Homo sapiens: one gene and its partner. Each later gene encodes a partner of the first gene's protein in a complex. Each region holds a gene or a part of one and is shown in the gene's direction. Other genes may lie near its edges.

Region 1 (3,750 bases):
ACTCCCCACCCCCCACACCCAGCCCCCCGCCCCGAGACATTTTTGGTTGTCGCACTAGCGGGAGGATACTACTGGCATCTAGTGAAGAGAGGCCAGGTATTCTGCTAAGCATCCTACGATGCACAGGACAGCCCCCTACAATAAATATTCAGCCCCAATTGTCAATAGTACAGAGACTGTGAAACGCTGCGTTAAACGTACATAAATTAGGGGCATACAAAAATGAGCTAAATTTGGTCTTACTCGCTAGGAGCCTATATGTGGGTGGGGAGAGGAGTGGGACTGGAAGAGGAAAAGGAAGATGTGAAGGTACAGTAAGGAGATATTGGACCAGGGTGAGAAAACCCAAAAAGCTCCAAAGAGTGCTCTCAAACTTGCCTTGTTCTGTCGCCTATGAACTGGCAAAGGGAAAAGTGAGAGAGAGAGAGAGATGTTAAGAAAGGGACAGGGTTGTCCCTAAGGTATGGGAAGGTGGAGTAATTCCTCTAGGCCCTTTGCTTTGGGTATATCGTGGAAAATGTTAGGATTTTGGATCTAGGCAGAACTGGTTTGACACCAACACAACCTGAATGAGTTGAGGGCTAAAAGGAAAGCTTTGTGGAGGAGGAGGAGGTGACAACTAACTAGAATCTTTATGAGAGAAAAGGAATCAACCAGGAGAACAGAAGACAGTCTCCTCCAGAGAACAGCATAGGCAAGACCCTGAGACAAGATAGAATATGATACCTTGGAAACCGCAGGGAGGAATCTGCAAGTGCCGGTTTCTTCATCAGTAACATTGGATTCGTAAAAACACCCTGTCGGGGAGAGGTATGATGTGATATTTGGAAAGCGCTTACTGCAGTGCCTGGCACCAAGCTCAGTTCAACAATCCCCCAGACCCTTCCTAAAGCAACCAGGCTGGGGACAGCGATTTGGTCCCACCTGTTCCCCTGAGCCTACGTCTTTGGGGCTTCTATTACCAAGCCAGACTGTCTAAATATTTACTACAAGCTACTTTTTAAATTCAGGAGAGGGCAGATCAAACAGCCTCTTTTGCCCCCAGTAACAATGAGCCCTTAGGAAGCATCTAAGAGAGAGGAAGGAAAGAAAGGACTGGCGAGCAGGTGAGGGTGGGGGCTTGCTCTACCCTCAACATTTACACACCATGAGGAAGAGGCCCCCTACAGCAGAGAAGGGCAGATGACAGGAGCAGCCCTCGAGGGCACCACCAATTTCAGTGATGGAAAAACTCCCCCATCCCACCCTTAGACCTCCAGTCTCCCAGCCAAGCCCTAGCTCCGGGCGAGATGCGTTCTCTTCAGAAAAACGCTGAGAATTCTCAGCTTCCAGAGACAGCGAGTCCCTCGTTTCGGGCGATGTCCCTGGCCACCTGGCGGTGCCATCCCTCCCCTGAGACTAAGCGGGATATGGGACGTGTGCAGGAGCCGGGATATGGGGGGCCGGGTCGGTGGTAACAGGGAAACGGAGACTGCTGTGGAGCAGTAGGCGGAGACTAGAGCTCCGGAAAAGGTCGCTACAGGGACGGGGGTGAGAGCTGAGAGACACCGAGTGAGGAGCACAGAGATAACCCGCCTGATCTCAAGGCCCAGCTTTCGCGAGGTGTGGAGCCTGTAGCTAACCTAGGAGTCTCCGTCCGCCAGCAATGCCGCAGGACTAAAAAGATCCCCTCAAAAATCTCTTCATTGAGCCCCCACCTCCTCGAGTCCCGCTCCGGCCGGTCGAGCAGCCAATCGCCTCGCGGGGCGGGGTTGCGGCGAGCTGCCGTAACCAATAGAGGTGGAGGGGGCGGGGCCTGGCTCCCGGCGCGCGGCGGTAGGGTCGCCTCCGGCAAAGCGAGCTGAACCCTGAGGGGAGCCGCTGACCAGCAGCATGGAGGACCCCGCCGCGCCTGGGACCGGGGGCCCGCCCGCAAATGGCAATGGCAACGGCGGCGGCAAAGGGAAGCAGGCGGCGCCCAAGGGCCGCGAAGCGTTCCGAAGCCAGCGGCGGGAGTCAGAGGTGAGGAGCCCGGAAAGCTTCGGCTGGGGCCCGGAGACGCCCGCCGGCGGGAAGCGGCGGCTGAGGTGATTCGGCCTCGGCCCCGGAGCCCTCGGCGCGCTCGATCAGCCCCGCGCAGTGGGCGCCTGCGGGGTCCTAGCGGCTGAACTCTGGGCTCTTTGGCCCGGACCAGTGTCCGCCCGTCTCCTGCCGCGGGTTGGGGGCTTTCTAGCCCTCTGGCTTTCCCCCGCTGCGCGAAGATGAGCGCGGTATTGAGCGGACCAGATACTTTCCAAATATTTATCTCACTTAATCGCTGCAGCCCCCTGAAGCAGAAATTCCGATCCCAGTTTATAGACGGGGGAACAGGAGCGGAGAGGTTAAGTGACTGGCTTGAGGGGTGGGAGGCTGGAGCTCAGCCGCAGGAAAGCAGGATTGGCGAGTGGGGCAACCGCAGTCCCCCTCCCAGGCTGCCTGCGGCGGGCCCCTGGGCCAGCCGAGGGACTTCTGCCCGTTCCCTGCCCGTCCCCTTCCCCCCGTAAGTCTTAGGCCGTTTCGGGAGCGCCTTCCGCGGACATCAGGCCCCTGCCTGTGAGGGCTGAGCGAGACGGGATTCAGGCAGGGGCAGTCCTGGAGTGGCTATCTGGAGGGAGCAGTCGCAGGATACAGATAGGAGTGTGAATATTTCGATCTCTTCCTCCTCTCCTGAAAAAAGAAACCCTATCTATGAAGATGAAAGCGTTGAATTATTATCACTTCCCTATCCCCTCATTGAGGCAGTTCCCATCAGTTGGATCTGAGCGGGGATCAGAATAGACGACAAAATATCAGATGTGGCAGGGTCTGCAGATATCATCTGGTATAACCCTTTCATTTTACAGACCTAAAAAAAAGAGGAGTGACTTGCCCAAGATCAGACATCTGGCATAGTTGGTGGTCAAGAACACCAGACTTTGGAGTAGTCAGACCAGGTTTTGACTCCTAGCCCTATCATTTACTACCTGTGTGATTTTCGGCACATTACGGAACCTCTCTGAGCTCCAGTTTCTTCATCTGTAAGATGAGATTAACACTGCCTACCTCAGAAGGTTGTGATAAAGTCAAAATGAGATAATTGACTATAAAATGTTTGGCACAGTGCAGGCACAATGCATGTAATTAGTCAGTACATAGTAACTCTTAGTATATTGCTATCATCATCATCATCATCATCATCAAGTGGCAGAGCTGGTACTAGAAACCAGGTTTTTGGCATCCCAGACCTTGCCTTACCATTTGAATAGCATTTCAGTTTCCAAAGTGATTTCATGTATGCTTTACATTTTGATGTAGGTAGAGTAGGAGGAATCCATTCATTTTTTTTCAAGGTAGAAATGGAGATGAAAAGACTGGCCCAAAGTCACCACCTTGCAGAGGCAGAGAGCTCAGCCCTCCTGTCTTGCTAGATGATACCCGCCACATCATCTCCCTCCCTACTTCAAGATGAGTCTGGTCTTTTAGGGCACCCTGTACCTCCTTCCCCCACAGAGACATTGTTCTCGTTCAAATGTTTTTTTGGGGAGATGAGCCATTCATTAATTCAACAATTATTTATCGAGGACTTTCTGCCAGCCACTGTTTTAGGTGCCAGGGATATATCAGTGAACAAGATAGGGTCTTCGCCCATGGGGAGACAAATTGTGAGTAAATAAATAAAATAATTTCAGAATGATATGTTCTATGGGGGGAATAAAAGTCTCTGCCTGGGTCTCCCTTCTAAAGTTGCAATCT
Region 2 (3,750 bases), on another chromosome or scaffold:
TTGCGTTCAGATGGGGCCAGCAGGGGTTTTCTCAGTGAACTTCCCGTGGTGCACACTGCGTGCAGAAGCAGGCGTTCGCAAGCAGGCGTTCGGCCGCCTGCTTATTATCTGTCCCTGAACCTGAAAGCAAGTCCTCGGGCCTCTGAGTAAAATCAAGGCAAGCGCATCACCGACGTACTCTCAGCAGAGATCGGCTTCTGCCAGGGCCTGCCTGCCAGTCACCGAGTGTGTTTAGCTGGTTGAGAGGTGCTTGGAGGTCTGGAGGTGCATCCGTCAGAGATCATGTTCAGTAGCACAATAGGGTGACCGTAGTTAATAATTTGTTGTGTTTCAAATAGCCAGAAGAGAAGATTTGGAATATCCCAGCACAAAGGAATGAGCCGTGTTTGAGGTGAGGGGGATCCCAGCTACCCGGATTTGATTGTTACACACTGTATACTTGTACCAGAAAAAATTCATATAACTATTATGTACCCTTACAAATGAGAAGGCTCTGGGTCTGTGTGGCCAGGAGACAGCATGCTTTGAAAACAGCAGTAGCTGTAATGAAATCTGAGAGGCCTGGGGGAAGCAGACAGATGTGGAATCACACAAACTTGAGAGCCACCTGTTGGTGTGGAGAACCGCTGCCACACAAGAGTCACAATTGCCACCTCTGTTCTTGCCTCTCCCCTCCTCGGTCCTCCCTCCTTGTGCCTGCTCACTCCTGTCCTCCTGTCGCTGCCACAGTTCTGGGTGCTTGCCCACCCTGTGCTCCCATGCACCTGCTTCCCTGCTCCTAGGGGCAAGAGACTGGGATCAGTTGCATTTCTGCTGATTTTTAAGATAATGCAATGCAAGATAAAGCAGAGTCCAAGTTGTAGAGGGAAGGAAAATAGTATTACTTCCAACGTCAGCTCTTCTAGACTGACCCCTTCAGTACAAGATTTAGTAGAAAGAATTTAGAACAAGACTTGCTGGCAGCTTTTCATCTTCACTGAGAATAAGGAAATAGAATATGCCGTAGGCATCATTCCCATGGACTGCTGGGCTTGGGGGCTTCCAGTAGGGATTTCTGGTACTCACTAAGGCTGCAGGAACATGGTAAGTGTATCCTCTGGATAGTTAAAGCACCCTGCAGCCACAACGATGCTTCCGCCTATGCATTTCCTTGCTGTAGAGTGAGTGTGAGAGATGTATTCGATTCTCACTGAAGTTCTTGGAATAATGATGGATTCCAGTGCACAGTGAGAACAGCAGGAAAGCTGTACCAGACTCAGGCGTGTTCTCTACCCCAGTCCCCATTCGTCTTTCGCCAGCCCATATAGGACTATGTCCTGCCTCATTGTCGGCCTCTGTCCTGTTTGGGGATTGGTGTCACATGCTGTCAATGTCTCATCAGCTGTCAAGTTCCTCTTAGGATGGCCTGGCTCTTCTCATTGACATGACACATTCAAGGAATTCATTCCTTTGCCTAACTGCTTGGTTGTGCCACAGGCCTGTGCTGGGCAGAAGGAGGTGGGGCAGCTGGACCTGAGATGTCCTAGTGGGGCCACACGGCTTCTGCAGATGTCTCCTCTGGGACATTCGGCAGAAAATGCAGACACTAGAGAGACACAGTAAATGACATCAGCAAGAAACCACCAGACAAATCCCGAATTTGGGACCTGTTTCTTTAAGTTGATGTCCCTGGGGAGACTGGGGACAGGACTGTTGTAGGTTGAAAGAGCCTTAGCGACCTGGCAGTCAGTTGTACCCCGTGGACTTTGGATCCTGATTCAGATAAACCAACCATGGAATGACAGTTTTTGAACAGCTGAGAACATTTAATTATACATGACATTAAGGAATTCGTGTTAATTTCAGGCACTGATAGGTAGTAAAAAGTCTGTATATTGGCACACGGAAATACTCGGGGGAAAATGTCATGATGACTGATTGATTTTAAAATATACTCGGGGAACACATGGACAAAGCTCGTATGGCAAAATGTTAATTAGTAAATTCATGCAATAGGTAGATGAGGATGCATTATATTAATATTTCTCAGTTCTTTGTATGTTTGAACATTTTCATAATAAACTTTTTTAAGTTCTGGGCCCCTGGTAAGGCACCTTACATGGCCACCTCCTCCTCTTCCACCTCCATTCTACAGATGAGAGAAACAGGGCTCAGAGGTTAGCTCTTTCATCTAACGTCACAGGACTTTGACTGTAGAACTGGCATTTCAACCCAGGTATCTTGAGACCAAGGTGCCCACTCTCGACCTCAGAGCTGTGCCCTAAGTTCTAAGCACTGCTGGAGGGGGTGACTCGCGAGCGTACACCCACTCCGGACTCCTCCTCTCTGCTCACCTCTCTTACTGGTCCTGCTGGCCCCCGGGACTCCACGGGGAATGCCGAATGCATCCAGCAGGAGGCGTAGTAGGAGTGAATTGATAAGCCATCTCCATGTAGAGGCAGAAAACATTTGGCATATTACAGTTTCTCCTGTTGTCTCTTTTGAAATTACAGCGAGGGCTTATGTTTTTAAATATCAGTTAAAAATACCTTTTTCAAAACCTCAGAAGTATTGAGACATGTTACCATTTTCCCCCTAAATACTGTGTATTGGAATAGATTCCTGCTTGGTGTTTGTAAAGATGCTTTTCTTGTTGCAGGCAGACATCTGGTCCCTGGGCATAACAGCTATTGAACTTGCAAGAGGGGAACCACCTCATTCCGAGCTGCACCCCATGAAAGTTTTATTCCTCATTCCAAAGAACAACCCACCGACGTTGGAAGGAAACTACAGTAAACCCCTCAAGGAGTTTGTGGAGGCCTGTTTGAATAAGGAGCCGAGCTTTGTAAGTTTCCCAGGGATCACAGCGTACCTCTTCATGTGCGGCTTGACTTGGTTGAGATACATCCTGTTGGGATTGCTTTAATCACTCTTTTCAGCTGTCTTCCTGGTATTATTCATTTTTCTTTTTCTAAGTAAGTATGATTGACTTCTTTGGTTTGCAAATACATTTTAATTTTTAAGTATTAAAAATCTCCTTATTTTCTTTTAGATTTCTGCCATCTCATACTTCATTGAATCTGAAGAATATTCTCCTTAATATTAAATGTGGAATCATAAATGTTTAATATTTATAGAAGATCAGGCCATAAACTGTTACACTGTTTTTAATAATGGCAAAGGTTAGCTGGAAACAAATGGCTAAATATGTCTTTAAAGTAAATGTTTTCACTTTCCAGGTGGCATGTGTTAGGAAACAAAAGATTAGAAAATATAACCAAGCCACCCTCTGTGCTTCTTCCCCTCCCCTTCCTGCCTACTTTCTCTTTTTAGGTTTAATAGACTCTGGCAGAGCCATACAGCAGTAACGACTGTGTGGCTTTGCCTCATTTTCTGTCTGAATTAGGACATTTCTTTGAAAGTAGTGTGTGTGTGTTGGTGTTGGAGGTAGCACCATATGTCCTTGTTTTGTTTCTGAGTTTTCCAGCAGAGTTAGCTGAAGGCTAAGCTGAGCCCCCCTTTTCTTAACTCTTATGTAAAAATGGGTGGTTACTTTTACAAGAGCACCATGGTTTCCTAATATGCCAGTTCTGGTAAAGGAATTAAATGGGTAATGCAACATTTTCTAAGTACGTCTAAGGAGATGCAGGCTGAGACCACCACACCAGTGTTTGATGACTACATCAGCATCGGGTGGTGGTGGGGCTTGTCCTGCATGCCACGATGCTCTGCATTTTATTACACGATGATGTTTCTTGCAGCCATCATGCA

The links.
Region 2: STRIP2 (region 1) and STK24 share a complex: the UniProt entries of both Homo sapiens proteins name them as parts of the core of STRIPAK complex.

Annotation. Positions count from the first base shown.
Region 1 is NC_000007.14:129,432,601-129,436,350, forward strand, and holds the start of STRIP2 (striatin-interacting protein 2), read left to right. Parts: upstream 1-1,831; 5' UTR 1,832-1,872; coding exon 1,873-2,001; intron 2,002-3,750. UniProt on the Homo sapiens protein: Plays a role in the regulation of cell morphology and cytoskeletal organization. Required in the control of cell shape. Calmodulin-binding scaffolding protein which is the center of the striatin-interacting phosphatase and kinase (STRIPAK) complexes.
Region 2 is NC_000013.11:98,465,450-98,469,199, reverse strand, and holds part of STK24 (serine/threonine-protein kinase 24 isoform b precursor), read left to right. Parts: intron 1-2,638; coding exon 2,639-2,824; intron 2,825-3,750. UniProt on the Homo sapiens protein: Serine/threonine-protein kinase that acts on both serine and threonine residues and promotes apoptosis in response to stress stimuli and caspase activation.